2 separate regions of the Homo sapiens genome follow, and region 1 is linked to region 2. The links come from fine-mapping of genetic effects on gene expression. Tissue or cell type: whole blood. Region 2 holds a variant in brackets; the other region holds the start of a gene. All regions are shown on one strand. Distances are from middle to middle.

Region 1 (16,346 bases), 50 kb before region 2:
GCAGAGGCTGCAGTGAGCCGAGATCACACCACTGCCCTCCAGCCTAGGCAACAGAGTGAGACACCAACTTAAAAAAAAAAAAAAGGCAAATACTATCTGTCTCAAACCACAAACTGCCTTGTTCACCTAAAGTAAAACCATAATAAAATCAGGAACTAACCCAGTAGGCCACTATTTCACCAACGCTTCTATGAATGCCCCAGAAGGGTTTGCTAATTCAAAGACAAGAAACCAAAATTCGAGGTATAAGAATTGAGGAAGAGAGAAAATTGTCATCATTTGAAGATTAAATGACTGTCTTCCCAGAAAACATAAAAAAATCAACTGAAAAAACTATAGAATTAATAAGAGTAAGTGATCTCATCAAAGGTGAATATAAAAATCAATAGCCTTCTTATATTTTTATAAGAGAAATTATCCTTTATTCTATCAAATGTTCTATCCTTATTCTATCAAAAGGACCTCTCTACAATAGCATCTGAAAATACAAGATACCAAGGAAAAACCCTTAACAAAATCATTGTCAAGTCCATGTAAAGAAAACCACAAAATCTTACTGGGTGATAGAAAATTTTGCTGACAGAATAAATGGAGAGACATCTCAGAAGAATAAATATGGCAAAGTTACTAAATATGTGAATTTACTTAATTTTACAATGCCAATCAAAATATAATACCAAGTAATCTTTTCCCCACAGGGGCAGAAGGACTTGAAAAAAATAACCATTATATTTAACTGAGAAATTAATTCCTAACATAATTCAGACAAAGAAGTGTAATGAGAGGCAACTAGCCCTATGAGCTGTCAAGGTCACAGGGCTATGAGCCCTATCATAAAGCTCTAATAATTAAGACACTATAGTCCTAGAATAAAAATAGAGAACTGGGCTGGGTGCAGTGGCTCACGCCTGTAATCCCAGCACTTTGGGAGGTGGAGGCAGGAGGATCACTTGAACTCAGGAGTTCAAGACCAGCCTGGCCAACATGGCGAAACTCCGTCTCTACAAAAATAAATAAATAAATAAATAATAAATAAATTTTAAAAACTTAGCCAGGTATAATGGTGTGCACCTGTGGTCCCAGCTACTCAGGAGGCTGAGGCAGGAAAATTGCTTGAGCCTGGGAGGTGGAAGCTGCAGTGAACCATGTTCGTGACACTGTACTCCAGCCTAAGTGACAGAGTGAGACCCTGTCTCAAAAAAAAAAGGAAAAAAAAAGAAATAGACAACTAGGGTTTAATGGATCAAAATAGAAAGCTCAGAAGCACAGGGTAGTATATACAGTAATTTAATATATGCTAAGGGAAATGTCATGCACCTGTAGAGAAAGGAATAATCATTCAAGGGATAATAGATATAACTGACCAGTCATCTGGGACAAAATGAGATGTTCACATAAAACCCTTTATCAAAATAAATCCCAAGTTGATTAAATAATAAATGTAAGCAAAAGTCAAATTGCAAACATCTAGAAGCTAATTCTAGTTTTTCTTTTTATCAGATCTCTGAAGCAGTCTTAAAAACATAAAAGCAATGGAAGGAATTACATTTTACTCAAAAATATAATATTAGAACAACTACAATTTAAAAGCCAAGCAGCAAATGGAAATATTAGCAACACATATGACAAAATTTAGTAATCAATGGTATATAAACCCAAATCAACACAAAGGCAAAAAACGGATGATTTGCAGGAGAGAGGAGAGGGAGGGAGAAAGAAAAAAGAAGCGAGAGAGAAAGGAAGAGATAAGGGAAAGAGAACAAACTTAAAATATAGGAGAAATTACAAGTAGTACAACATTTACATATCATTTTTTCTTTTCATTTTGTTTGCTTGTCAAATTAGCAAAGTTTTAAATTATGATATTTAATACAATTAATGAAGCAGTATATGATCATTCTTACTGTTGCTGAGAGTGCAAATTGGTACACCCCATTACAAAAAGAACTCTTTATATGTATCAATACTTTTAAATGTGTTCATATTCTTTGACTTAGTAATTCATTGCCCAAAAATCTATCCTAAAGGTAGAATTCCTAATTTGAAGTTTGAGAGGGGAAGATTTAAGCATTTATACACAAATGCACACTGGAACTTTACATATAAAAGAGAAATATTGGACCAAACCCAACTGCCCAAAAGTAGAAGAAAGACTAGGTAAATTATGATACCGCCACACAATTATATCTTATGCTCTCATTAAATGATTTCGTCATTTTAAAAAGCTTTAAAAATGCTATTTTAGAAAGAATAACCTATCTGTATATTTATCTAAGTTTTAAAAAAATACACAGGAAAGTAAAAATAAACCAAAATGTTAATGGTGCTAATCTCTGGTTAAGAAATGGTAATTTACTCCCTTTTTTCAGTAAGTCAATATTTATCAGGCTGCAACTTACCATCTGTGGGGTGTCAAAGTTTAATTGGTAGCATCGTTTCTTCTTCTTTTTATTTTTTATTTTTATTTTTATTTTTTGACACAGGGTCTCTTTCTGTCACCCAGGCTGGAGTACAGTGGTGCAAACTCTACAGTTTCTACCTTCCGGCTTAAGCAATCCTCCCACCTCAGCCTCATGAGTATGTGGGACTACAGGAGCGCGTCACCATACCTGGCCAATTTTTTTAAAATTTTTAGTTGAGATGAGGTCTCGCTATGTTGCCAAAGCTGGTCTACAACTCCTGGCCTCAAGTGATCCTCTTGCCTTGGTCTCCCAAAGTGCTGAGATTACAGGCATGAGCCGCTGCACCCAGCAGGCAGCATTGTGTTTTCTTAGTGGTATCAAAAATAATAATAATAATAACGCTACATCATATAGTAAATGGATTTTTAATTCAATAAAAAATGTGATATAGTACTAGCTCTGCTACTTGCTAACTGAGTGACTTGAGTCAGAAATCACTTAACCTCTTGGTGCCTCAGTTTTTCCATCAGTAAATTAAAGGTAAAATAGTCCCTACCTCAAAGGCAAGTTTGGGGGATTAGGAGAGTTGAAATATGTGAAGCATTTACAACACTGCCTGGCATGTAGTAAGGTAGATTAATACTCACCATCTTATGGATGAGAAACAGGCTCAAAAAGCATTAAATAACTTACCCAAATTCCCATCCCATAGGTACGCACCTGAAATTCAAACCCAAATCTATCTGGTTCTATTATACTTCCTAATCCCCAAGGCTCCCTGATTTATGCAAATTTAAGCATCTCATATTGTCCCTACTCCCATACTAAGCAAAAGTCTGATCATCAAAAGTTTAAATAAAAAAGTTGTCAGATAATATGCCTTGCTAGCATTGGCAACATTTGACAGGTATCAGATGGTTATTAATGAATTCAATCATTTAATTTACAGGTGGAAGTGGTATAAACTTTTGCTTTTTGCCAGCTGCATTGTGAAATGGTTTTCCTCCCTTACTGTTTAGGTTTTAAGGGTGTAGTTTTTGTAATTTGGGAAGTTAAAAGGAAAGACTGGCTTGGCCCAAAACTGCCTGTGAAAAGCTGCAAGCTGACACCATAGTGAAGTCAGAGGTGGAGCCCATGACTCTGGAGTTCTCTGTCCACTTCAGTAGATAGTTATGATCCCATTTTGGGCAACAGAAATGACTGATCCAAAGTAGATATGCAAAGTGATAACTCACCATTTTGTTGTCAAATCCTCCTGTTATCCCCAGGCAAAAGTCCTGCCCATATCTAAGGACTTGACCAGTGGCATCTCTGTGTACACTGTCAGTGGACAATAAGTATAATGTAAATGTAAACTCTCTGTATTAGAATCATTCTATGACTCTATTTTTTATGCATGCAATTTTGTTTATAATCAGTTTTTTGATAATTTATATTCACATACTGTAACTGAATTAGGTAATTAAATAAAAGGTGTTTTCTTTTGGTCTTAAAATCCAGCTAGCACCCTACTCCCTGCCCTGCACCATAGCTAGCACACAAAGCATCCCCACTTTGTGAGCCTCTGGTTAGAGTAAACTAAGCACATCTTGCTAATGTATACTAAGGAATTCTGGTCAAGTGCATTGACATGTTCAGAGAGAACCAAGGTAACACATTTGTAGACATTTAATACGGTTCCCTCTTAATCCTTCAGGATAACAGAGGTTGTGATCAATTTTTACTTGTCTTAACATATGTATTCAAAGGAAATCTAAATTAGAACTTGAAGAACTGTCTATATATTCTTTTTTTTCCCCCAGGCTGGAGTTCAGTGGTGCAATCTTGGCTCACTGCAACCTCCACCTCCCAGGTTCAAGTGATTCTCATGCTTCAGTGACACAAGTAGCTGGAATTACAGGAGCCTGCCACCACGCCCAGCTAATTTTTTGTATTTTTTGTAGAGATGGGGTTTCGACATGTTGGCCAGGCTGGTCTCGAACTCCAGACCTCAGGTGATCTGCCTGCCTTGACTTCCCAAAGTATTGGGATTACAGGCATGAGCCACTGTACCTTGCCTGGGTCCATATATTCTTGCAATGCTTACATTGCTGTCATACGAATTAGTAATAGTTTTTAATTGTGATCATGTATCTATTTCTTCTCTAAGGATTTAATTGTTCATTTTCAAAATCTCTTCAAATACATTTTTAATGGACAGTTAATTTTAAAAGAGAAAATCCCATCTAGTGCCACATTGTATTAAACTACACGTTTTTATTGTAAAAAAAAAAATAGCCGTATTAAGAACAATGAAAACACTCAAATGAGCTCAAAAAGTTCCAAAATGTTATAGGGAAAACCTACTTTGCTTCCAGGCAGAATATGGATTTAATTCCCTGGATCCTATACTCATGATTTAAGCATTTTGAATTGAACACAATTATCCTGCTGTCTAAGGTAAAAAGGGATTGTAAAGTTCCTTTGACAATAATTCTCAAGGTAAGCAAAGCAAGATGAAAATCACGAAAAATGTTCACAAAACCTTTCCCTCCACTCAGTGGCTCCAATACCCAGGAATCTTTAAGCTACAAGTGAAACATATTTATGATGAAAATGAACTGAAAATTAAAGTCTCTTTACCTCAAAATGATAAAAGTGTTTCTGCCAATTGGGGTCTTGGCTTGAACTGCGCTCAGGCCACAGGGTACCTCTAATTCGTCTTTCAGATGGGACTGAATTTCATCTGGAGTCATACACAGGCTCAGGTCCCCACGCAGAAACACATCAGCTTCTGTGTCAGGATCATCAGGATTCACAAGCATCACTTTGTCACCGTAATGAATATAGCCATCTTCAGTTACGGAAAGTTGCATCTACAATTTTGATAGTAGTTTATTACATAAACCATGCAATTCCTCAACAGTTACTGCCAAGGCAATTTTCTTCCTTCTCGGACTAGTACCCATTTCATTCAGGATTTCACTTGGATTCCCTCGAACCCTTAGTTCCTTCTTCCTTTCCCTTCCCCTTTGCCAAGGCAAAGCTCCCAATAATTCCAAATGAAGTCGAATAAAGCTGGTTAAAATCACATGGATTTACTCATTATCCTAGAAATTCAACATTCATTGAAAAATTTGTCGATTACCAACTAAGGGGCATTTTACTTATTTACATATTAACTCATTTATTTCTTTATTTGTAAAATGCAGGTAAACATGATTTAGGGCAGACTGTTTATGTTTCTAAAATCTTAGAAGAATTTAAAACATTGCAAATTGTTTTTAAAAACTGTTATTTTCCAAATGGTAACTCAGTTATGAAATTTTTTTCTTGCTTAACATATACTCACACCAAGTTCAACAGAATTTTGAAAACAATGTCTGAATTTAAAGTTACCGGTCTCAATAAACATACGTGTGCATGTGTCTTTATAGCAGCATGTTTTATAATCCTTTGGGTATATACCCAGTAATGGGATGTCTGGGTCAAATGGTATTTCTAGTTCTAGATCCCTGAGGAATTGCCACACTGACTTCCACAATGGTTGAACTAGTTTACAGTCCCACCAACTGCGGCACTATTCACAATAGCAAAGACTTGGAACCAACCTAAATGTCCAACAACGATAGACTGGATTAAGAAAATGTGGCACATATACACCATGGAATACTATGCAGCCATAAAAAATGATGAGTTCATGTCCTTTGTAGGGACATGGATGAAGCTGGAAACCATCATTCTGAGCAAACTATCGCAGGGACAGAAAACCAAACACCGCATATTCTCACTCATAGGTGGGAATTGAACAATGGAGAACACATGGACACAGGAAGGGGAACATCGCACACTGGGGCCTGTTGTGGGGTGGGGGGAGGGGAGAGGGATAGCATTAGGAGATATACCTAATGTTAAATGACGAGTTAATGGGTGCAGCACACCAACATAGCATATGTATACATATGTAACAAACCTGCACGTTGTGCACATGTACCCTAAAACTTAAAGTGTAATAAAAAAAAAAAAAGTTACCGGTCTCAAGAGATTCTGTTTTAGTCTTCTACTTCTCTGTATGAGAAGTTTCCCCTTGTCTCTCTTCTCTAAGAAGTCTTTCATGAGCTCCTAAACAGAAAATCAACAAAAGTAGCCCTGAATAATATAGATGTTAGTATTAATAACTTTTAGGTCAGAAGCTCTTCCAAGTTGAAAAAGCAAAATTTGAGTACAAAAAAAGAGATGTGAGCATAATTGGAATGATGGAACGTTTTTAGCACTACTTTAATATTTTTACTACATTATAGAATGTTTAGAAAAATGAGAAAGGCAAAACAAAGAAAAAGAAACATCACCAGTAATTACTCCAGCCAGATACCATCCTAAATGACATTTGGAGGCCATGTCTCCCCTGCTGGGGTTTCCCTTGACCGTATGATGACTGACACTAGAAAGTTCACCCCTCCCCAATCTGACCCGTATACGAATGGCTCAAAGCCTTGTTAAGACCACCCTTGGGAGAATACGAGGCAGTGAGTGAGTACAACGTCAATAAAAGGAATACTCAGGGTCATTTAAGAGGGCAAGCGTGGCAGGGTTGGAGTGGGGAGGGATATTATTTCTACCTAGAACCTGTGTCCTCACCTGGCCCGCAGCCTGAGACTGTAAGACTCTAAGGAATACGGGGGACTTAGTGGGGCTCTAGACTAAGCGGGAGACACAGGCCAGGGGCTTGAGAGTCAAGGCATCTGACTTTGGGAGGCCAAGGGACCCAGAGAAAGAAAAGTCAGGGTGCTCGGAGTAGAGGTCAGTGAGACCTGGGTTTGCAGTTCGGCAGGTGAGATTCCTTGGGAGTTTAGAGAAGTGGGGGATTTTAGAGGTATTCGCTGTATGCTGGGAGAGAGAGGAGGCTTGAGGCGCTCAAAGTAGGAGACTGAACTTAGAGCAGGGTCTGGGAGTTCCTGAGCTGCGGGTCTGCGCCTGGCCACACCCTGCGTACCTCCTCCAGGTAGACATCCTCATTCCAGTTGCCTATCCGGACTCCCGGACCATACACGTTCTGCGCCATCGCTCCCTGCTGTTCAGCAAGTGGGCCTCCCTCCGACACCATGCGTTAGCGTGGCGCGTCGCCATGACGACCCGGCCCCAGGCGATTGGTCAAGGTCTGGGACCCTGCTGGCCAATAAGCGACAGCGCGCACCCTCGCCCTGGGGCGGGAGATGGGGCGTCTGGGTCAGCGGCTGTCTGTGGCCCTCCAGCCCGCCCCACTTCCACCTCTTAGATTTCCTTAACTGCAGGGTGGGCGAGAGGGAAAACCCTGGCTGACAAAGTGCTTCCGAGAGAGAAATTTAAAGCTTTCTTTCTATTAGAATCTAACCGAAAAGTGCTATCGAGTACCCCTTGCTTGTCGAGGCAACAAAGAGGAGCTTTTAAATGGAAGCACGGCTTGCTTGCAGCCTATTTTTTGTAATCAGCAGCAGCAGCAGCAGCAGCAGCAGCAGCAATTTCGCCCTAATCATAAAACAATACCTGCTCAATGTACACATTTGGAAACCAAAATCGCATAGAAAGAAGAAAGGAAAATTAATAATTTCAGGGCCTTAAAAGTAAGAAATATACCATGTTAGTATATTTCTGTTTATAGGTTTCTGAGGTTGTCCATATTTTTGCGGACTTGACAGCATCCTCCCTCCCTCCCTCCCTTGCTCCCTCCTTCCCTGGGTCTCAAAGTTAAAGGACGAACCTGTGATTTGCAGGAACTCTTAAGAAAACCAGACTCTGCTGTAGCCAGCATTAATAAAACAAAATATTATTTTCTGGGGAGGGGAGGGATACCAGTTACTGTAGGACTACCGGAGGCTTGATGCAGATTGAATGCATTCAGTAATTTACCTCTATTTAGTGTCTAGTAAGACATGACTGAAATGGAAGACAGGAGCCTCCGCTCCCTTCAGCAAACCCAGTCTAAAAGAAAAGATAGTTCATGAAAACGAATTACTTAAGGAAGACTGTGGAAAAATGCAATTAAAGATGTGCTGATGGGCTGGCGTGGTGGCTCAAGCCTATAATCCAGCACTTTGGGAAGCCGAGGCAGGAGGATCACTTGAGCCCAGGAGTTCTAGACCAGCCTGGGCAACATAGTGAGACCCCATCTCCAATTTAAAAAAAAATACATATATATATATATATATATATATATATATATATATATATATATATATGCTGATGAAGGGCCATGGAGTTGAAGGATCCTTTCTGTCTTGAGGAACTGTGAGAATGGGAATTGGATGGCCTTTGAGTGATGGGAGAGGGGCTGCTTTGGAGCTGAACTGGGAAGGATTTGAACTGGCAGGCTGAAGTGTAGAATAAAAATAGGAACATTCCCACATTCTGATGAATCCACCAGCTCTGTCAATATATCACCACATTCGAGGATACTTCTGAAGGACACATAGGACAAAGCAGTTAGATCAGATAGTATACCACTAACTGCATTTGATAAATTCAGAAACTGAGACTCAAAGAAGCTAGCAGTCTAAATTCAAACTGCTAAAAGTTGCTCAAAGAAAGGACTCAGTCCAAACTTTCCGACTCCAAAGTCATGTTTGTTTGTTTTTCCTTTTAAGTATTTTTCATATTCCTCATAAAATCAAGAATAAAACAAAGCAGCTCTAGTCTCTACATTTTTAACAAGGTTCTAATGATTGGGTCATTCAGTAAGTCCTTACACTGATACAGCTTTGCTCCCACCTACTTCCTTAGTGCTATTTTTGACAAGTATATTACATTTCTATATATAATAGACCCAATAATACAATTATACATAGTGTTTTATACAATTGCTTTAAATCACTCAGGAGAAGAAATATCTTTATTGGTGCTCTATGGTATTTTTCTATGAACACAAATTACTGCTTTGTGTTGTTTTCAACCTGAATAACTTCCTTCCATATTTCTTATAAATCAGGTCTGCTAGCAACACATTCTCTTGGTTTTTGCTTACCTTAATAAGATGCTTTTTCTGGATACATGATTCTTTGTTGATAGCGTTTTTTTCTTTCTTTCAATATTTTAAATATGCCATCCTACTACCTCTGGACTCCCTTATTTCTTTTTCTTCCAAGACAGAGTCTCACTCTATCAACCTGGCTGGAGTACAGCAGCACAATCTCGGCTCACTGCAACCTCTGCTTCCCAGGTTCAAGCAATTCTCATGCCTCAGCCTCCTGAGTACCTGGGGCTAAAGGCATGTGCCACCATGCCTGGGTAATTTTTGTATTTTTAGTAGAGATGGGGTTTTACCAGGTTGGCCAGGCTGGTCTTGAACTCCTGACCTCAAGTGATCGGCCCTCCTCAGCCTTCCAAAGTGCTGGGATTACAGGCATAAGCCACCCTGCCCAGCCATGGCCTCCATTATTTCTGATGAGAAATCAGCTATTAATCTTATTTTGCTTCCCTTACACATACTCTTGCTGCTTTCAAGATTTTTTTTGTCTTTGTCTTTAATATTTTAACTAGATATATTTGGATATTGACCTCTTTTCTTTTATCCTGCTTGAGCTGCCTGAATATGTAAATTAATGCTCTTTTCATCAAATTTGGGGAATTTTCAGGCCTTATTGTTTGGAATATTTTTTCTGATCCTTTGTCTGTCTTCTGTCTTTATGAAACTCCCATCATGTGTATATTGATGCACTTACTGATATCCTGCATTCCTCCAAGATGCTATTTGTTTTTCTTCATTTTTTTCTCTCTGTTCTTCAGATTGCATAATTTCTATTGATTTGTCTTCAAGTTTGCAAATTTTTGTTTTGCTGGCTCAAACTTACTGCTGTATTCCGCTAGTGAGTTTTTTATTTTGGTTATGGTACTTTTCAACTACAGAATTTACATTCGGTTATATTTTATAATTTCTCTCTATTGATATTTTATATTTCATAATGAAACACTATCATCATACCTTCCTTTAATTCTTTAATCATGGTATCCCTTAGTTTTTTGAACATATTTATAATGGCTGCTTTGAAGTCTTTGTCTGCTAAGTCCAACATCTGGGCTCTGTCAAAGGCAGTTTCTGTTGACTTTTTTGTTTGTTTGTTTTTTATCTTCTTTCTGTCTGTGGATCACAGTTTTCTGTTTCTTTGCAGGTCTCATGATTTTTTGTTGAAAACTAGACATTTTAGATACAGGAATACATCATTTTATTGCAATTCACTTTATTGCACTTTGCAGATATTGATTCTTTTTTTTTTTTTTTTTTTACAAATTGAAGGTTTTTGGCAAGCCTGCATCAGGCAAGTGTGTTGGAGCCATTTTTCCAACAGCATACGCTCACTTCACGTCTCTGTGTCACATTTTGGTAATGCTCAAGATATTTCAAACTTCCTTATTATTATATCTATTATGGTGATCTGTGATCAGTGATTTTTGATGTTGCCATTGTAGTTGTTTGGGGCACCATGAACCATGGGCATATAAGATAGCAAATCCAATCAATAAATGTTAGGTGTTCTGACTGCTCCACCTACCAGCCATGTCCCCATCTCTCTCCCTCTCCTCAGGCCTTCCCAGTCCCTGAGACACAACAATATATAAATTAGGACAATTAATAACCCTAAAATGGCCACTAAGTGTTCAAGTGTTCAAGTGAAAGGAAGAGCCAAATGTCTGTCTCTGTTTTGTTTTTGTTTTTGTTTTTGAGATGGAGTCTCGCTCTGTTGCCCAGGCTGGAGTGCAGTGGCACGATCTTGGCTCACTACAACCTCCACCTCCCAGGTTCAAGCGATTCTCCTGCCTCAGCCTCCCAAGTAGCTGAGACTACAGGCGCATGCCACCACACCCAGCTAATTTTTTGTATTTTTAGTAGAGAGGGAGTTTCACCATGTTAGCCAGGATGGTCTCACTCTCCTGACCTTGTGATCCACCTGCCTCGGCCTCCCAAAGTGCTGGGATTACAGGCGTGAGCCAAGTCTGTCTCTTAAATAAAAAGCTAGATATGATTAAACTGAGTGAGGAAAACATGTCAAAAGCCAAGATAGGCTGAAAGCTGGGCCTCTTGCATAAAGCAGTTAGCTAAGTTGTGAATGCAAAGGAGAAGTTCTTGAAGGAAATTAAAAGTGCTATTCCAATGAAAACACAAATGATAAGAAAGTAAAACAGCCTGTTTCTGATATGAAAAAAGTTTTACTGGTCTAGATAAAAGGTCAGACGAGCCACCACATTCCCTTGAGCCAAAGCCTAATCCAGAACAAGGCTCTAATTCTTTTCAAGTCTATAAAGACTGAGAGAAGGTTTAAGGAAAAAGCCATCTTCATAACATAAAACTGCAAAGTGAAGCAGTAAGTTCTGATGTAAAGGCTGCACCAAGTTATCCAGAGGATCTGGCTAAGATCATTGATGTAGGTGGCTGCACTAAACAACAGATTTTCAATATAGGCAAAAAAAAAAAAAAAGCCTTACATTAGAAGATGTCATCTAGGACTTTCACAGAGAAAAAAGTTAATGCCTGATTTTCAATGTAGGCAAAAAAAGCCTTACATTAGAAGATGTCATCTAGGACTTTCACAGAGAAAAAAGTTAATGCCTGATTTTCAATGTAGGCAAAAAAGACTTACATTAGAAGATGTCATCTAGGACTTTCATAGAGGAAAAAGTTAATGCTTGCCTTCAAAGCTTCAGAGAACAGGATGAGTATCTTGTTAGTGGCTAATGCACCCCATGCTCATTTACTATTCTGAAAATCCTAGGTGATATGGTTTGGCTGTGTCACCACCCAAATCTCATCTCAAATTGTAGCTCCCATAATTCCCACATGTTGTGGGAGGGACCCAGTGGCAGATATTTGAATCATGGGGGTGGTTTTCCCCATACTGTTCTCGTGGTAGTGAATAAGTCTCATGAGATCTGATGGTTTTTTAAGAGGTTTCCCCTTTAATTTAGCTCTTTTTTCTCTTGTCTGCCACCATGTGAGATGTGCCTTTCACCTTCCACCGTGATTGTGAGGCCTCCCCAGCCATGTGGAAATGAGTCTATTAACCTCTTTTTCTTCATAAATCACCCAGTCTCAGGATGTCTTTATCAGCAGCATGAAAACAAAATAATACACTAGGTCCCTTAAGAATTATGCTAAATCTACTTTTCCTGTGCTCTATAACTGGAAGAAGAAAGCCTGGATGACAGCACATCTGTTTGCAGCTTTGTTCACTGACTATTTTAAGCCCACTGTTGAGATCTACTGCTTAGAAAAAAAAAAAGATTTCTTTCAAAATATTACTGTTTATTGACAATGCACCTAGTCACCCAAGAGCTCTGATGGAGATGTACAAGGAAATTAATATTGTTTTCATGATTGCTAACATAATATCCATTCTGCAGCCCATGGATCAAGAAGTAATTTCAACTTTCAAGTCTTATTATTTAAGAAATGCTTTTTTTTTTTTTTCTCGAGACAGAGTCCTGCTGTGTTGTCCAGGCTGGAGTGCAGTGGCGTGATCTTGGCTCACCTCTGCCTCCTGGGTTCAAGCGATTCTCCTGCCAAAGTGCTGGGATTACAGGCATAAACCACCACAACCAGCCAATAAATACATTTTTAAGGCCATAGCTGCCAAAGATAGTGATTTCTCTGATGAATCTGGGTGAAGTAAATTGAAAACTTTCTGGAAAGGATTTGCCATTCTAGATGCCATTAAGAACATTTGTGATTCATGGGAGGAGGTCAAAATATCAACATTAATGAGAGTTTGGAAGAAATTGATTTCAATCCTCATGGATGACTTTGAGGAGTTCCATATTTTAATGGAGGAGGTAATTGCAGATGTCACGGATATAACAAGAAAACTAGAATTAAAAATGGAGCCTGAAGAAGTGGAATCTGAAAAAGATCACTCTTGGGAAGAATTAAAAATGGAGCTGCAGTCTTGAGGAGGAGTTGCTGCTTATGAATGAACAAGTAAAGTGGTTTCTGGAGGTGGAATCTACTCCTGGTGAAGATACTATAACACTGCTGAAATGACAACAAAGGATTTAGACTATTACATAAACTTATTTGATAAGGCAGCAGCAGGGTTTGAGAGGATTGACTCCAATTTCAGAAGAAGTTCTACCATGGGTGAAATGCTATCAAACATCATCACATGCTACAGAGAAATTTTTCATGTATGAAAATTGTCAGAATTAAAACAGAGTCACTAATGTTAAGATAATTCTGACAAATAGAGCTGGGAAAGACCATAAAGAGAGGGTTCTCACACTTATATGCCTGATAACGAAAAGATTCTACAAAAACCACAGCCTTACACAAAGGTCATTACCACCTTATACAAAAAATACTTCTACAAGGCCATCTACCCAACACTTGCCTATCCAACCTTGGACTGGTGTCACCTTGTTATTGATCTTTGTAACCAAGGAAAATTATTTAAAAACAACTATGTAGTCCTAATCTTTTCCTTTAAAAACCTTTATCTTTTCTTTACCTCCCTGAATACACACATAGTTTACTATGGCATGCATAGTCCCATTGCAATGCTCTGTCCCCAGATAAGTATCTTTTCTTTTAGAGAGCCTCTCTCTATTTGTTATTGAGGGTGACATATATGGTGTCAAAAGTGGGATCTGAAAAAGATCAGTCTTGGGAAGAATCAGTGATTCTTGGAACCAGTGTGTGGTACTCACTTCAGTCCTTTGAGCTCTGCTTCCATGGCTGTCATCTTTTCTGCCCTGGTGAGTTTTCTCTCAGGTTGAGCCCCTCCTCTTCTTTTGGTAGAGGCTTTTTAAATACTATTTGGGATCTGATTTAGATAAGCCCACCTTAATAAAAAAAGAAAAAACATACATCATTCTTGGGATGAAAAAAGACTTTTTGCCTTTTCTGATATGTCCTTTCTGGTATAAATACAAATGTTTTTTTCCAGATTGAGTACTCTTGGTTTCCACAGAATTTACATTCTGTCTCTGAGGCATATCTTCTGGTAAATTTAATTTTGGTCTAGCTTGCATACCTAGTTTAATGTTTTGTGTGATCTGCACACCTAGGTTAAAATGTTTGTGAGCATTCTTATCTGGGTTTTTTGCTTTTGTTTGACTTTTTCCCTTACTTGTTTCTGAAAATCTTCTGAGAGTAAAAATAAACACTCTGGATGGTGGGTGCAGGATGGCTAATTAAAAGCCACAGGGCAATCACCATCATCTAAAACACGGGTCTAAATTCCTGATGTTCTCTGACATGATTTTTGGATTTTCCTTGCTCTTGAGAGATTAATAAGAAACAGAATGGGATTCACAAACATTAAGGCATGCCAGGTTTTCTGGGACTCCAGCCAGCTACATATTATGGCCTGTTCTTGTGTACATTTTCAAACTGATAGGCAAATTCTATCAAGGAAAATTCAGAGTTCGAACGGTCTTTATTCAAAAAACCTGCAAATATAGAGTTAAAATGGAGAGTCTTACATGTTCTCTATCTCTCTATTTTTTTCTACCTACTTTGAATTTGCTGACTTTTCCACTGGTGTTAAGATAAAACTCACCACTTATGGCATTCAAGCAAAGATTTTTAAAAGTCTTTAAGAACTTTCAAATCAATGGTTTTGCAAATTCCAATAGTTCCGTGCTAACCAACAACCCTGATATCTTTTAGAAACATAAAATAGTTTTGCCTAACAATTGTGTGCAATGATAAAATACTTAACTGACAAATTAATAATCTAAAGTGAAAAGAAATAGATAAATATTTATAAAAATTAGGCTCTCAGATCAAACAGGTCAAAATCTTGAGCTCAGAGCAATAACGTAAGGTATCTGTCCAGCATAAAAATTTTACTTTTTGGCTACACTGAGGCCAAAAGGAAAAAGCTGAGAAAAAGAGAAAAATAAACTGCTCAAATTCTTCCCTGCCCACATTTGTTAATGAAGTAAACCAGATCAGCAAATAGATTTGTTACTTGTTCAAGGCTACCTGGAGATTTCATTTTTCTTATACAATTCAGCCAATCCTAGATAAAATGTAAATATTGAAATTTTAACCTTGAACTCACTTGAAGCTAAAAAAAAATAAGATGAAGGAAGTTTTTCAAAATCAAACTGACATGGAAACTGCTTTACCCAAAATTTTGATCTTCAGCCTTCATTCAATTACCTATCAGGGCAAATAAAGTTTAGCAATGTGAACAAATCTCAATTTTGTTAGAAATATAATTTGGATCTCACTTTCTTTTATACACCAGTGAGTTGGCCGGGCATGGTGGCTCGCGCCTGTAATCCCAGGACTTTGGGAGGCTGAGCTGGCTGGATCACCTGAGGTCAGGAGTTTGAGACCAGCCTGCCAACATGGTGAAACCCCAGCTCTACTAAAAATACAAAACTTAGCTGGGCATGGTGATGTGCATCTGTAATCCCAGCTACTCCAGAGGCTGAGGCAAGAGAATCACTTGAACCCGGGAGACGGAGGTTGCAGTAAGCTGAGATTGTGCCACTGCACTCCAGCCTAGGCAACAGAGCGAGACTCCATCTCAAAAACAAAAACAAAAACAAAAACAAACAAAAAAAACAATGAGTTGTTATACTATCTCATGACTCTAATACTAAAATGAAAGCTATATGATTTTTATTTGAGTGTGTATATGTGTTTAGATGTGTTACGGATATGTACATTTATCATGTTGTATGCTGTGTTTACATAGTAAAATCTGATGTCGTTGGTCAGAAATCCTCTAAGGATAAATGAGTACTCATATAAAATATAATATGTATATAGCCATTAGCCCAGATACCTTTTAGTTCACATGACTAAAGTAAACCTTTAGTAAATAAACTGGTTTTTAAATTACTGATAACATAAAAATAAAAATGTCTTCAAAATTGTCAGTATGCATTTTTGCTTAAGTTTACTGGTCAGTTTTATGTTGTCTTTGCTAGATGTTTTAAGGAATAGGGGTTTGACACAAAGTTTACAAAACTATAAATCCAGCCTAA
Region 2 (16,346 bases):
TGGCTGCATAGTATTCCATGGTGTATATGTGCCACATTTTCTTAATCCAGTCTATCATTGTTGGACATTTGGGTTGGTTCCAAGTCTTTGCTATTGTGAATAATGCCTCAATAAACATACGTGTGCATGTGTCTTTATAGCAGCATGATTTATAGTCCTTTGGGTATATACCCAGTAATGGGATGGCTGGGTCAAATGGTATTTCTAGTTCTAGATCCCTGAGGAATCGCCACACTGACTTCCACAATGGTTGAACTAGTTTACGGTCCCACCAACAGTGTAAAAGTGTTCCTATTTCTCCACATCCTCTCCAGCACCTGTTGTTTCCTGACTTTTTAATGATTGCCATTCTAACTGGTGTGAGATGGTATCTCATTGTGGTGTTGGTTTGCATTTCTCTGATGGCCAGTGATGGTGAGCATTTTTTCATGTGTTTTTTGGCTGCATAAATGTCTTCTTTTGAGAAGTGTCTGTTCATGTCCTTTGACCACTTTTTGATGGGGTTGTTTGTTTTTTTCTTGTAAATTTGTTTGAGTTCATTGTAGATTCTGGATATTAGCCCTTTGTCAGATGAGTAGGTTGCGAAAATTTTCTCCCATTCTGTCGGTTGGCTGTTCATTCTGATGGTAGTTTCTTTTGCTGTGCAGAAGCTCTTTAGTTTAATTAGATCCCATTTGTCAATTTTGGCTTTTGTTGCCATTGCTTTGCCATTCAGAAATATTTCTAAATAATTTCCCCTACTAATTCTATATCGTTAATGAGGTAAAATTTACACACAGTGGAATGCACAGATATCATGCATATAATTTAATGAATTTTGAAAAAGGTACCACCCCTATCAAGACAAAGAATACTTCCATCACCCCCAGAAAATGCCCCCATGTTTCCCTTTCTAGTCAATTTCCCAGTCCACCCCTTAGCCAACTGCAGTTCTAATTTTTATCAACATGGATTAGTTTTGCTGATTCTTAACTTCAAATAAATGGAATCATGGTATCTGGGAGGCGGACAGGATTCTAACCCTTAGCTTCTTGCAGGTCCTATGCCTGATGGTCCCAGTTACATTTCTCCTATCCAAGCCACTTCTTGCTGGACTGAGTGGGAAGAACTCTTAACTCTGGGGCTCCATCCCCTAAGCTCATGATGTGGAAAATTTAAAATGAGGCCACAGTGATCTCTGTTGCATTTTCAACTTAGAGGACATTCAATTTAGTTTTCTGCCATGAGCCAGGCTTATACTCCTGAGAGTTCTTTATTCCATCCTTCCAGATCTCCTGGAGCAAAGTCTGTGTACATTTTAGTTACTTAATAATGACTCTTCCTCCTTCAATTAACCTGAATGTTTTTTATTTCATTACAACGCAAGCCCATTTCTACATGTTTTCTCCCCAGTGAAGCTGTTGAACAATTGGTCAATAGTACAGTAATGCAATAAGAAATCTACTTATATTTCACCCTATGATCTCACTGGGCATAGATTTTCTGTATCCATTCTGAAGAATTTGGCATTGAACATAGGTTTGTGTTACAATTGCTACATACAAACTTGAATTTGAATTATAACTCTACCAGCAACTGGTCCTATTTTCGAGTCTTGTTATTGTCTGTCCTTGGCAATGCAGTTGTCCCCGGTGGAAAGCATGTGTGCATTAGTGAGCCACACCTCCTTGAGGGTGTCTCTCACCTGGGGTCAGCTGTGCACATAGCTCCCCTAAGTAGCCTTTGCCTAATCTTGCCTTTACCTCTCTTGCCTATACCTCATGTCATAGAACTCTCATCAAAGTGCTCAAGAGCTTCTTGAAGGACACATTGTTTCTATATCCCCAGCAGTAGCCATCACCATAAAGGCTGACTCAATAAAGATTAATAAATAAATTAATCAATAAACTATCTGGCTCAGTCTGGGGAAGAGTAAGAGATGGGTTCCTCAAAAGCATTGACTCCTTCCCATAACCAGGGGTGCTCCCTTCTTGGTCCCGAGCCAGTACAGATTCAGTACAAATCCATGACCAAGATCCTCCCTATCCTTAATAAATCTTGGTCCCAGGGTAAGGGGTAGAGAACCAGAGGGAAAAATGTCTACTAAATGTTTCCAGTGTCATTAAATGGCTGGCTATCCCAGACTTCCCCTCAACCCTCTCATCTCATCTGGGTGCCCACTTTTAGGGTAATTACAACTATGCTCTCCCCAAGTTCCCTTCTTATAACTCGTCTTTTTTCTCTGTCAGAGGCTTACTTTACGTACACAGTTCGTCAGACTGCACTTATTACAAAATAAAGGAATGCTCATTCCCTAAAAAAGGTCTTCCATTTTCTTCATTCTGTATTCGGTAACCACAATCCTATCCACAAAGCACACTATTTCATTAAACGCAAGTTTCACTGAGTTCTTAGGCTCCCAGCATATATGCTTACAGCCTACTTCATTGCCTTCAGTAAAAGAAAGACATTCTAGGGTATACGGGTTTTTGGGGGGCAGTGAGGCAGTTAGGCAGAGGTTCGGGGAAGAGTGATGATGGAAGTCGGAGGAACTCCTGCAAGGGCAGCCTGTAGGCTCATCAGTCTGGAGAGACCTGGACAATGCCTGGTAGGACACTAGTGAACTCAGAAAACAGCCCTTGCAGAGTGGCATGTAAGGGGTTAAGGCCATCCAGACTTGTTTATGGAGCAAACACTGTAGATCCCAGAGGGCAGGGAGAATAAAGTTGCTAGAAAGTGCATGTAAGTCTCTTTTCCTTGTCTTGTCTTGGCTGCCTCCATCCTGGAAGTCTGGCCCTGCATCACAAGAGTTCTTAAGTTATTCCATTAAGCACGTGATTTTTATCCACAAACAAATGTTTAGCCTCTTAGATTTTCTCTGCACTCAAAAGCCAAAATGAATACCATCCTTTGCATAAAAAACAGCTGACCTGGAGCCCCAGACCATATGAGGCAGAAACTCACACTCCCCACGCTCTGCCCTAGCAGCTGTGCCCCCACGGCCTCTGAAAACTTCCCCAGGCAGTATCAGCCATCCCATCGCACAGTGCTGCAGCAGACTACAAAACAGAACTAATAAGAAATATGCACGGGTTATAAATCATGGAATCAGAGCTAGAAGGGATGTTACAAACCTTCTGATCCAACTCTTACATTTTAAAGAAGAAGAACCTGAAGGAAAGCGATTTTCCTGGGTCATGTAGCAAACAAGCAGTGAGGTAGGCTCTGGGTTGATTTGACCCCAGCTATGAAGCCATCACTTTAAGCAACATGCCGTGATGATACCAGACATGTTTTGTGAACCTTTCTAGTTAACCTACAGAGATGAGTGAAGTCCTCTGGAAACTTACAGAAACAAAAAGCAGTTCTAGGGTATACAGGTTTTGGGGGGCCAGTGAGGCAGTTAGGCAGAGGTTCGGGGAAGAGTGATGGTGGAAATCAGAGCAACTCCTGCAAGGGCAGCCTGTAGACTCATCAGTGTGAAGAGACCTGGACAATGCCTAGTAGGACACTACTGAGCTCAGAAAACAGCCCTTACAGAGTGGCATGTAAGGGGTTAAGGCCGTCCAGAGTTGTTTATGGAGCAAACACTGTAGATCCCAGAGTGCAGGGAGAATAAAGTTGGAGAAAGGGCATGTGAGTGTGTCTGAATGTGTGAGCATGTGTGAAAGCATGTGCATGTGTGTGAAAGTATATGAGAATGCACCTGTGTGTGTGCATGTGTGTGTGTGTGGGTGCATGTGTATGTATGTGTTCCTGCATGCATGGGTGAGGGAGATCAGAAAGTGCAGGGGAAAGGAAAGAGTAAAGTGGGGAGAGCCCAGACAGCAGACACCCAAAGCATTTGGATTCTTTTTTCACTTTACCAAAAAACATAAACTCAACATGACACTAAAGAAAAAAAAAGCAAAAAGAAGTAGGGCACAGTGGCTCACGCCTGTAATCACAGCACTTTGGGAAACTGAGGCAGGTGGATCACTTGAGGTTAAAAGTTCAAGACCAGCCTGGCCAACATGGTGAAACCCTGTCTCTACTACAAATATAAAAAAAATAGCTGGGCATGGTGGAGTGCCTGTAGTCTCAGCTACTTGAGAGGCTGAGGCAGGAGAATCACTGGAACCCGGGAGGTGGAGGCTGCGGTGAGCCGAGATTGCGCCATTGTCTTCCAGCCTGGGCTACAGAGTAAGACTCGATCTCAGAAAGAAAACAAAAGCAAAAAGAAAACAAACTCTTAGTCCTATCATTTAGACATAACAACCATCGTATTCCCTTCTAGTCATTGCCCAAATGCAGACCTTTTTGTTTTGGCATGTTGTTGTCACCGTATGGGAAACATTTTGTAATGTGTTACCCAACATATTGTAAGCATTTTTTTCATGTTGATGAACTAACTGAAGGCTGAGACATCATCATTTTCTGAATGACTCCCTGATGGCTGGATATTTAAGCTGCCTCACAAATTTTACAAAGTAAAGCTGTAGTGAGGTTTGGAGCTTGTTTTTCTTATGAATTATTTGCTTAGGATAAATTCTCAGGAGTGTAGGTCAAGGGTCATGCACTATTTTTGGCTTTTGTTACGTATCATTAAAAGAATCAAACCCAAAAGAGTCCAGCCAATTATACTTCCACCTGCAGTGTGGAAAAGTGCTCACTTCATTAGAACTCTCTTCCATGATAAAACAAAACAAAACAAAACAAAACAAAACAAAACTATTTTAATGAGATCCTAAAACTCCTACATGCATGGAACTAGTTTGGCACCTTTATGACATCTTGTAGCACCAAAATACACAATAGACGACCAATAGCCAATCCAACCTTCTGATTCCTAAAGTTTAAACAAATTAAGAAACTGTCTTTAAGAGAAAGAATATAAAACCACCAACATATAATTATATAATTAGATATGAAAGGGATATTTTCAAATGAGAGAAAAAACTGAAACAAATCACAAATGTTTAGAAAGCCAGAAATGCCACAAATTTATAAATTGAAAAAATCTAATTTTTACTAATTAACTGCTTCTACAACCCTTTTTTCCTACATTTTTGGCTGCCTATTCATTGATCTCCTCACACACAATGACAGTTTTCAGTATCTTCTTCTGTAGCAAGAATAAAAAGCTAATTTAATCTTTCATCTGGCCTGGTGGATCAAAATTTGTTCATTACCATTTAATAAATTATAAAGGTTTCTTTTCATTTCACAACTTCGCATTAGTTCTATTGCATAGAGTTTTAGAATTATACAATCTGGAAAACCCTCAGTCAAATTTCTTTTGTATATGAGAGGAACTTGTCTTTGTCAGAGGAGGGTGTTTTATCAAACTTTTAAATCAGAATTTCTTTTCCCAATTGGGACAGATCACTGGAGTTTCTGTTACAGCTGCATGAGAAGATGATCTAAGCTGAGTCTGAATGTATTTCAAACCTTGTTTTTCCACCAGTACCCACATACTTCCTGCACTGGCTGCTGTGGGATGTGTACCTATGGGCTACAACCCCCGCCCTGCACCTTAGTGACAAGGTGGCACTGAGTCAGACAATGAATGGTAGGCGTGTTCCCAAAAACCATTCCTATAAAGGAATAGGGAACAATAACTTAACTCTACATGGAAGTGGCTGTGAATGACATAAATATATCCCATCAAACTCAAACTATTAGGTGGGTGCAAAAGTAATCGCGGTTTTCGCAATTACTTGAAATGGCAAAAACTGTGATTACTTTTCACCTAATAGATGTATTTCTAAGCCAATTTTACATCCTAAATATACCTGCAGCTGCTCTGACATCAACAGACACAAGCGGAAATTAACAGAGGGGAAGCCAGAGTGGATAGCAATGGTGGTCTTAATCAAATGTGATTTAAAATATGTATTGGTTCAAATTGTATAAAAACATAAGAACATGTGAACACATTATGAGGGCTCCTCCCCAGGGCCTTGGAAGGGGTCTGCATGGGGGAAGGCATCTGAGACCTAAGCTTCATTCTCTTCATCTGTGCATCACCCTGAATTCATTCCTGTATCACTTTGATAGAGTGAGAATTGTTCATTACCTTAATTGTATTAGGGTGTTGTGTGGGATTTTTTATTGCATCTAGAATTATGCTGAGGAAAAAATAGACTTTTGCATTCTGAATAATTATCATCCCCCTCCAGAGATGACTAAGAGGAAGCAGAGCCCATTACCACGTCTTCCC[CT/T]CTAGTCTCTGTATTAAGGAGATAAGGACTGGGGTGTGGTGGGGAGGAAATCTGGAGAGTCATTGGAATCGTAAGTCATAGAACTATTTGGGAAGTTCTGGGGGTTTTCTAACCCCCATACCAAATAATGGGTGGTCCAAGAGAACCCTTCATAGTGACTGGGTGGTTTGAAAGGAGGAGAACTAATGTCTCACTCTAAGTTGAGTGATTGTGCAGTGTAAGAGGTGTCATGCTTCCATGCCTAAAGCAGCCGGGGGAGAGAGAATTGAAGAAACAATCGCAGATGAAAAGCAGGGTAACAGGTGGCAGTTTAAATTCCCACTATTTGGAGAATCAAAGATATGTACATTTGTCCTAGAGTGGTGGGCACAATACAAGTAGCCAGGACCAAGCCTTCTTGCCACTATGCCACTCAAAAGCAATGGCCAGCAGGTGAGGGAACCGCAGCAAGGGGAAGCTCTAGACACCATCAAGGTGGAGCTGATAGGAGGTCAGGCCAGAACGCATCTCACATGCATCTCACACATAAGGGAACCGTGCAGATCAGAGGCTGCTTCTTCTTCTTCTTCTTTTTTTTTTTTTTTTTGAGAGAGAGTGCAGTGGCACCAATCTCAGCTCACTGCAGTCTCCACCTCCCTGGTTCAGGTGATACTCCTGCCTCAGCCTCCTGAGTAGCTGGGACTACGGGCACCCACCATCATACCCAGCTAATTTTTGTATTTTTAGTAGAGACAGTGTTTCACCATGTTGGCCAGGCTGGCCTCGAACTCCTGACTTCAGGTGATCCACCCGCCTCGGCCTCCCAAAGTGCTGGGATTACAGGCGTGAGCCACCGTGTCTGGCCAGAGGCTTCTTTCTAAAGGGCCTACTACAAGATACCCATGTGAGTCCCTCAGAGGGGCTGCCACTGAGCATCTGCTACCCAACGGCCGTGGTGGAAAAGCAGTAACCATCGACATAAAGAGCACCACAGTAGCACCAGCCCCCAACACAATGCAAAAGAGTGACCCGGGGGAGGGAGAGGAGGGAAAAGAGAAATCTAATCTCATCTGTCCCAGGTCCCGCAGGCCTAAGCCAGGTGGAGTGAGGAGGAAGAAAGTATTAAATTCAATATGATGATTTTTCAACCAAGGCTTCATTCAGATCTGCCCCAGATGCCACAAGGAAGAGGAATTGGGGATTTGTCATAGAACAGTTGAAGGCAAGGAGTAGAGATTTTTTAAAAAATGTCTCAACAACAAGTTCAGACTGTTCAACAAATTATTCATAAGTTGTAAGAATCAGGGAAAACAGATCAGGAGCTGCTGTGCAGCTAGAATCATCCTTCAAATGGGTTTCTCTGTTTTCTTCCACATCCCACAAATGTGCTGGCATGAAGTTGCCACTGGTATCCTTGGTCTAATGAATTTCCCAGTTAGTGGAAGAGTGTTTCTCTCCAAATCTCTGTTTTATTAATCAGAGTGATAGTCATGAAAAATAATGCTTAAGAAAATGTGTGCTTTTAACTTGTATGATATGTAAGCCTTCTGGGCATAAAGGCAAGCTCATGTTTACAATTGTTTTTCTACTTTGGGAATTCTCTTCGACCATCCAGCTAGCGAGAAGCCATATGGTCCAGTGAAAGGAACGTGGAACCAGGCACTGGTATGCCTGGGTTCCAGGCCCTACCCTGTGGGGAGTCAAGGGTAAACGTTCAGCTTTCTGGACCACATCTTCCTCAAAGAAAGTGTAAGACTTCTCCAGGGTGTTGAGATTAGCAAAAAGCAGGCCTAGGTCTCAAACCCAGGTCTTCTGACTCCAAAATGAGCACTGTGCATCTCTCTGAATTGTGTCTCTCTTTTTTTCCATTCGGTAGGATCTGAAGGATAGTGACACCATCTTGTCATATCTGCATCCCCAGTACCTGTCAATGTCCCTGGCATTGAGTAGAAGCCCAGAAAAGGTTAAGTGAATGAATACAAAAGCCATGTCTTTTGCAATCAATCAGAAACTGTGCGCATCAGCATTTTCTTAAGTGTCTCCCATGACACTGATTGATGAGCCCCACTGAATCTTCAAAATAAACATGAAATAAATGGAAGTAGAAAAAAGCAGAAAGTGAAGCATGCTGCCTGTCTCTCATGGTGTGGCTGACCAGGGATAGCAAGAGTATCATTGATAAAATGCACTCATCCACATGCCACGCTGTAGCCACTTGTCATAGGGAAGGAAAAATTTGCTTTAAAAGCTGGCTACATTTGACCCACTTTTGTTTGTTTGGTTGGTTGGTTAGTTGGTTTATCTATTTATTTTTCATTGTATTTTTTAAATTTATTTTTAGAGATGGAGATCTCACTATGGTGCCCAGGTTGGTCTTGAACTCTTGGGCTCAAGTGGTCCTCCTGTCTCAGACTCCCAAAGTGCTGAGATTACGGACGTAAGCCACCACGCCTAGCCTGTTTGTTTTTTAACGAGAAAATTATTCCTTTTCTGTTCATGAAAACATGTTGATGAGTCTTCTTAAGCTATAAAAGGTGAGCCTAAATAGAAAATGAGCTGCATAACATAGGAACAGGAATTTGGGGATTGTTCCCTTACAGAATAAGACGTAAGGAGCCGGGCATGGTGCCTGTAAAATCCCAGCACTTCGGTAGGCCGAGGCGGGCAGATTGCTTGAGCCCAGGCATTTGAGAACAGCCTGGGCAACACAGTGAGACCTCATCAACCTTGTCTCTACTAAAAATAAACAATTAGCCAGGTGTGGCAGTGTGCGCCTATGGTCCCAACTACTAGGGAAGCTGACACAGGAGGATCACTTGAGCCGGGAGGTCGAAGCTGCAGTGAGCCAAGATTGCACCACTGCACTCTAGCCTGGGCAACAGAGTGAGACCCTATGTAAAAAAAAAAAAAAAAAAAAAAGACGTAAGGACGGTGTGGTCTCCAAGCCTTGGAGAAGAGGAAAGATGGAGACATCTCTCCCAAGGAGAATAGAACCCAGCTACAAGGCTGTGATGTGCAATCTAGAAAGTACCTGGTGAAGAAGTGGTCCAGAGTGAAGGTAGGGCAGCAATTGCCTCTTCTGAGCTTCTGTGCATCAGCATTTTCTTAAGTGTCTCCCGTGACACTCATTGATGAGCCCATTGAATCTTCAAAATAAACATGAAATAAATGGAAGTAGAAAAAAAGCAGAAAGTGAAGCATGCTATCTGTCTGAGCTGTTTTCTAATTCCCCTCTATGATTCCTAATTCCTTAGTAAATGTCCCTTATCTGCACAAGTGTTATTGGTGCTTTGAGGATTTCAGGAAAAGGAACTGTACATACTGTTGATAAAGCAAATCAAAAATAGCAGCCATCACAATTCCCATTGCAGGAGGGTTGGCAAATGGAGAGATGAAAATGCACCAAGAGCAGGAATACAGAGTAAGAAGCAAACAAGAGAATACAAGTCCTCCCACTCCCTGCCCCAGGATCCTCTGAGACTTTTGAAGAGGCTGCTGGACTTCCCAGCATGTGAAGTAGATGAGTTCCAGCTATTTTATTTGACTATCCTAGCAGAGGTTGGTAGTACCCTTACCTTACCCACTTCAGTGAATAACACCTGCTGGTTTACAAATGCCAGGCCCTTCATTTTCTGGTTTGGGGCTTTCTCTTCTCACTGCAGCCTTTTTGATGACGATTGCAGTGGGATGGAAGAACAGGGGAATCAAAGCACAGCCTCCGCTTGCACCTCAGAGCAACCCTCAACCAATGACTGATGGGAGCCAGTATATAAATACCCCAGCTCCCTTGCCACTAATGAGGGGCCAACTCTGAGCTGTACTTTTACATTTGCTTCAGACATTTCCCTCTGGGTGAAGCTCTAGTCACTCTTGGTGACAGCTGGCTTGATAAAGCACCTTTAATTGGCTGCCTTCCCTCCCCAGTCTCACTACCCCCAACCCCTCTGTTCACTTCCCAAATAAAACATCTGCTTCAAATTCCTTGTCTCAAGATCTACTTCTGGTGGAACCCAAACTAAGACATATTACATGAAAGAGCAACTCTATGAAGCTGAAGAACTTGGGAACATTCAGATGACACCTGGGGAATCTGATGAAGCAGGAAATCCTTCTCAGACTCCATGTAAGCCTCAAACAGGATTCAGCATAACTTACATGTGTGAATGTTTCCATACTAGCGGCCCTTTCCATGCCCAAATGCAAATCTCTTTCCACTTGCAAATGACCTCAAGTGTTCTTTCTTGCGGGGTGAACCATCTGCTCTACTCCTAAAAAAATCCAATAGAAGAAGCCAGATGGAGTCCATGACATTTTTATTTGTGACAGTTTGACTACTGGCCAAAGGGATGGAAGAACAAGAATCACACAGCATGGCCATTTTCTATTCCTTGGGCACTTGAGAGCCTCCTCCATGCTCATCTCTGTCAATACAGAAGTTGGTCCCTACAAGGAGACCAGAAATGGTGGTGGGTAAAAGAAGAATGGGTTGGCTGCACCATGGATGAAAAGCTTCCTGAAGAGGGACCTTGTTGCCTTCTCATCTCAGCTTCTCTAATTTTTTTAACCACTTTTTTCTCTGTATCTTTCCAGGGCTACCCATGGTGACTCCTTTGTTTCTCTTCTCTCAGACTAAATCCAAATGACAGCCTCCCATCTCTTTAGTGCTCTCACTCCCTCCACATCAGCTCTTACCTCATACCTCAAGACCTCAGGCCCTTACAGCTTCCACCTGGCTGCACCCCCTTCCTTATACTGGTGGAGCCCCCTTCTCAGCCACACAACCCATTCTCTCATCAGCAACTTCTCGTGCCCATATCGGCACCAATTAAAGCATTTGCCATCTCTGCTCCTTCACCCTGGGATAAGCCGAGCTAGAGAAAAATCAGACAATTGTTCGGATCGGCATCCCTACATTTTATTCCTTACAACTTCTAGACCATATCTCTAAGCAGCCAAATTAACCTCCTAATCCCAGTTGACTTTCACTCGTATCATTTCTTATCTACTACTCCAGTGAATGTGTGTGTGTGTGTGTATGTATGTATGTGAATATGTGTGTATATGTGTGTGTGTATGTGTGTATAGTAGAGATGGGGTCTTGCTACATTGCCCAGACTGATATTGAACTCCTGGCCTCAAGTGATCCTTCCACCTTGGCCTCCCAAAGTGCTGGGATTGCAGGTATGAGTCACTACGCCCAGGTTGAATGTACTTTTTGAGGAACCTGGTGGTCCCTTTCTCCTTGTAATGCATGTTCCTGAGATCTAGATCTAGTTTAACCACTCACTAAGCAAGAAGGGTGACCTGTTATTCACTCATAGTCACTGCAGACGCCAAGAGACTCTTAGGGAGCCAATGAACCATAAGCAGAGGCTGGTGTGGATCCGTACATTTCATGCCAATGGTCTCCCCTGAAATAAATCAGAATATGCCTTAATCACTTGTCATCACTACCATGATGACAAGTGATTGAGGCATAGTCTGGGTCATGTCTTACCTTATATCTCTTACGGGGATAACTGGCTATTCAGCCTGATTCTGGAAAAAAGAAGTAAAAAGAAAACAGTCCCACTGAGAATTCATAACCACAAGTTTCCCCACAACATGCAGACCTCAGGTCAGAATTATATTATCTGCATGTCCAGAAAAACCTTAAGCCAAACTATTTTTTTTTTTTAATTTGAGATGGAGTCTCGCTCCGTTGCCCAGGCTAGAGTGCACTGGCACGATCTCGGCTCACTGCACCCTCTGCCTCCTGGGTTCAAGCGATTCTCCCACCTCAGCCTCCCAAGTAGCTGGAATTACAGGCATCCACCACCATGCCTGGCTAATTTTTTGTATGTTTAGTAGAGACAGAGTTTTGCCGTGTTGGCCAGGCTGGTCTCGAACACCTGACTTCAGGTGATCCACCCGCCTTGCCCTCCCAAAGTGCTGGGATACAGGCATGAGCCACTGTGCTCGGCCCCTAAATCAAACATTTAAAGTGATTTTTTTTTTTTAAATTTCAACTTTTATTTTAGATACAGGGGCACATGTGTAGGATTGTTAAATGGGTATGTTGGGCCCAGGTAGTGAGCATAGTACCCAATAGGTAGTTTTTCTTTCTTTTTTTTTCTTTCTTTATTTTACTTTAAGTTCTAGGGAACATGTGCACAACGCACAGGTTTGTTACATATGTATATATGTGCCATGTTGGTGTGCTCCACCCATTAACTCGTCGTTTACAATAGGTATATCTCCTAATGCTATCCCTCTCCCCTCTCCCCTCCCCCCACCCCATGACAGGCCCTGGTGTGTGATGTTCCCCACCCTGTGTCCAAGTGTTCTCATTGTTCAATTCCCACCTATGAGTGAGAACATGCGGTGTTTGGTTTTCTGTCCTTGCGATAGTTTGCTCAGAATGATGGTTTCCAGCTTCATCCATGTCCCTACAAAGGACATGAACTCATCATTTTTTATGGCTGCACAGTATTCCATGGTGTATATGTGCCACATTTTCTTAATCCAGTCTATCATTGATGGAAATTTGAGTTGATTCCAAGTCCTTGCTATTGTGAATGGTGCCACATTAAACATACTTGTGCATGTGTCTTTATAACAGCATGATTTATAATCCTCTGGGTATATACCCAGTAATGGGATGGCTGGGTCAAATGGTATTTCTAGTTCTAGATCCTTGAGGAATCACCACACTGTCTTCCACAATGCTTGAACTAGTTTACAGTCCCACCAACAGTGTAAAAGTGTTCCTATTTCTCCACATCCTCTCCAGCACCTGTTGTTTCCTGACTTTTTAATGGTTGCCATTCTAACTGGTGTGAGATGGTATCTCATTGTGGTTTTGATTTGCATTTCTCTGATGGCCAGTGATGGTGAGCATTTTTTCATGTGTCCGTTGGCTGCATAAATGTCTTCTTTTGAGAAGTGTCTGTTCATATCCTTTGCCCACTTTTTGATGGGGTTGTTTGATTTTTTTCTTGTAAATTTGTTTAAGTTCTTTGTAGATTCTGGATATTAGCCCTTTGTCAGATGGGTAGATTGTAAAAATTTTCTCCCATTCTGTAGGTTGCCTGTTCACTCTGATGGTAGTGTCTTTTGCTGTGCAGAAGCTCTTTAGTTTAATTAGATCCCATTTGTCAATTTTGGCTTTTGTTGCCATTGCTTTTGGTGTTTTAGTCATGAAGTCCTATATTTAGAAAACCCCATCGTTTCAGCCCAAAATCTCCTTCAGCTGATAAGCAACTTCAGCAAAGTCTCAGGATACAAAATCAATGTATAAAAATCACAAGCATTCTTATACACCAATAACAGACAAACAGAGAGCCAAATCATGAGTGAACTCCCATTCACAATTGCTTCAAAGAGAATAAAATACCTAGGAATCCAACTTACAAGGAATGTGAAGGACCTCTTCAAGGAGAACTACAAACCACTGCTCAACGAAATAAAAGAGGACACAAACAAACGGAAGAACATTCCATGTTCATGGATAGGAAGAATCAATACCGTGAAAATGGCCATACTGCCCAAAGTAATTTATACATTCGATGCCATCCCCATCAAGCCACCAATGACTTTCTTCACAGAATTGGAAAAAACTACTTTAAAGTTCACATGGAACCAAAAAAGAGCCCACATTGCCAAGACAATACTAAGCCAAAAGAACAAAGCTGAAGGCATCACGTTATCTTATTTCAAACTATACTACAAGGCTACAGTAACCAAAACAGCATGGTACTGGTACCAAAACAGAGATAGAGACTAATGGAACAGAACAGAGCCCTCAGAAATAATACCACACATCTACAACCATCTGATCTTTGACAAACCTGACAAAAAAAAGCAATGGGGAAAGGATTCCCTATTTAATAAATGGTGCTGGGAAAACTGGCTAGCCATATGTAGAAAGCTGAAACTGGATCCCTTCCTTACACCTTATACAAAAATTAATTCAAGATGGATTAAAGACTTAAATGTTAGACCTAAAACTATAAAAACCCTAGAAGAAAACCTAGGCAATACCTTTCAGGACATAGGCATGGGTAAAGTGATTTTTTTTTAATGTTTAAACATTTAAAGTGATTCTTTAAAAATTAGTAGTGCTTTTTTTTTTTCTTTTTTTGAGACAGAGTCTCACTCTGCCACCCAGAATGGAGTGCTGTGGACCAACCTCTGCCTCCTGGGTTCAAGTGATTCTCCTGCCTCAGCCTCCCGAGAAGCTGGGACTATAGATGTGTGCCATCACACCCAGCTAATTTCTGTACTTTTAGTAGAAATGAGGTTTCACCATGTTGGCCAGGCTGCACACCAGCTCCTGGCCTCAAGTGATCTCTGCCCTCCTCGGCCTCCCAAAGTGCTGGGATTACAGGCATGAGCCACCACGCTGGGCCAAAAGTTAGTAGTGCTCTTATACATCTGGTAAAAGGAAATTCATGTTGTCTCTTGATGAACATGTGTTAGAACCAAGCTTCAAAACTGTTCTGTGGCTAAGGCCCCAAGATTTTCCCAATGATAAATCATAAAACACGCTAGAAATGTGCCATCATGAGTAAAAGGCAGCAGAAATCACCAATAGCAGAATCAGATCCATCATTTACATAACATAAAGCAAATGTGTTTGATAAATAAAAGTGGATGCCAAAATATGATAAATGAACCAAGAGATTATAAACAAGGAGTAAGTAGTTATGAAGAAAAGAAAAAAAAATGAAGTAAAAAAAGGGTGAATTAAGGTTTTAAATTCATCTATAGTTTGAGCAGCAGAATAGACACAGCTGAAGAAAAATAAATGGGTCAATTAGAAGACAGAAGGCAGAAATTATGCAGAAAAGTACATACAAATATACAGAAATAGAAGATATGAAAATATGAAAGACAGGTTGGCAGCCATGGAAGAGAGAGTGAAAAGGTCTAACATATATGTAACTGGGGTTCCAGAAAGAGCAGCTACTCTACGGAAAGAGAGAATGAGGATAGGAAGTATACAAAAATATAATATCTAAGAATTTTTCAGAACCGATAAAAGATAGTAATCCTCAGATTCAGGTAGACATCGGGAGTACTCTGAAGATGCGCTTGTATCGGCAGCACCAAGATTTCTATCTCATAATCCACTGGGTACCAAAATAGTAGGGACAGAGAAAAATGGGCCTCTCGATTTGCCCTTAGAATACAGATCTGAGACTTGACCCGCATATGCTTCTCATATGGAAGCAGTAATAATAACAGCAATAACAACAATAACAGCAAACACATGATGTGCACTGTTTCTTCAATTGCAAAATTAGGAAGGAGAAGGACGTAATCTCTAAAACCAATCCTAGTTCAGACATTCTATAAAGCTTGAAAAGGGTTGTAATCTCTATAAAATCCCTTGGATCAGAAGTTCTCTATCTACTTGATGGAACTCAAAGACAGCTAGTGTGGAAATACCCGAGTCTGAATGGACACTTGGCCCTCCTCTGAAGATGGGCTGCAAGCTGCCTGCCAGATCTGTGGGTTGAGGATACCCAGAGCTACAGTGAACTTACATAGTTCCCTTATACAAATTGGAAAAAGATAGTCTTCTGCATGCACCTTTTTTTTTTTTTTTTTTGAGACGGAGTCTCACTCTGCTGCATGGACCAACTTTTTAAAGTTATCCTTCAAGTTGACTCATGAGGAAAACAAAAGTTATCCCTTTGTGAGAAGAAGCAGGTTTCCTTTCCTATGGATTGATGTGACCCTCTACCAGGAAAAACAACGTGGCAAGAGAAACAAGGTCTGGATTTTTGCTCTAGCCACCCACCTCTGCTGGGTATAAACGGCACAACCTTGGCGGATGCTCACCAAGCCCATTCCTTCTTTATGGGCATGTGGCTAAGCTGCATCTCCCAACTCACATCTAAATGAACCCATATGACAAGTTCTCACCAATGCAAAGTGAACCGTCATGATGCATCACTTTCAGTCCAGAGCAGTTAGAAATAAAGGTGCCTCCTCTATACTCATGTTTCTCCCTCCATAGTAACTTGGAGGCCAAGTGTTGAAGGTGGCTGAACTACAGGTTGGAAAAAGCCTGAACCTCTGAGTCAGTGCTTATATGGAAGCTGGCCCAGAAGAGCTGTCCCACCAGAAACATCTGCAGGGGGCTTTTATAAGCAAGACATAAACTTTTCTCATATTAGAACACTGGCCTATAGAAAC

The links. PIP is the estimated chance that this variant, and not a neighbour inherited with it, causes the effect.
Region 1: CFAP161 starts here. The variant in region 2 is fine-mapped to the expression of CFAP161 in whole blood (TOPMed, PIP 0.94).

Annotation. Positions count from the first base shown.
Region 1 is chr15:81,125,427-81,141,772 of GRCh38, reverse strand. It overlaps CFAP161 (cilia and flagella associated protein 161), which reads right to left and starts at 7,503. Exons shown (of 7, transcript NM_173528.4): 1 at 7,375-7,503; 2 at 6,414-6,503; 3 at 5,025-5,257; 4 at 3,638-3,722. The coding sequence starts at 7,443.
Region 2 is chr15:81,075,238-81,091,583 of GRCh38, reverse strand. LOC124903540 (a long non-coding RNA gene) reads right to left here and starts at 11,877. Exons shown (of 3, transcript XR_007064734.1): 1 at 11,449-11,877; 2 at 10,317-10,429; 3 at 9,094-9,307. The variant CT/T (reference allele first, on the strand shown) is at 6,182.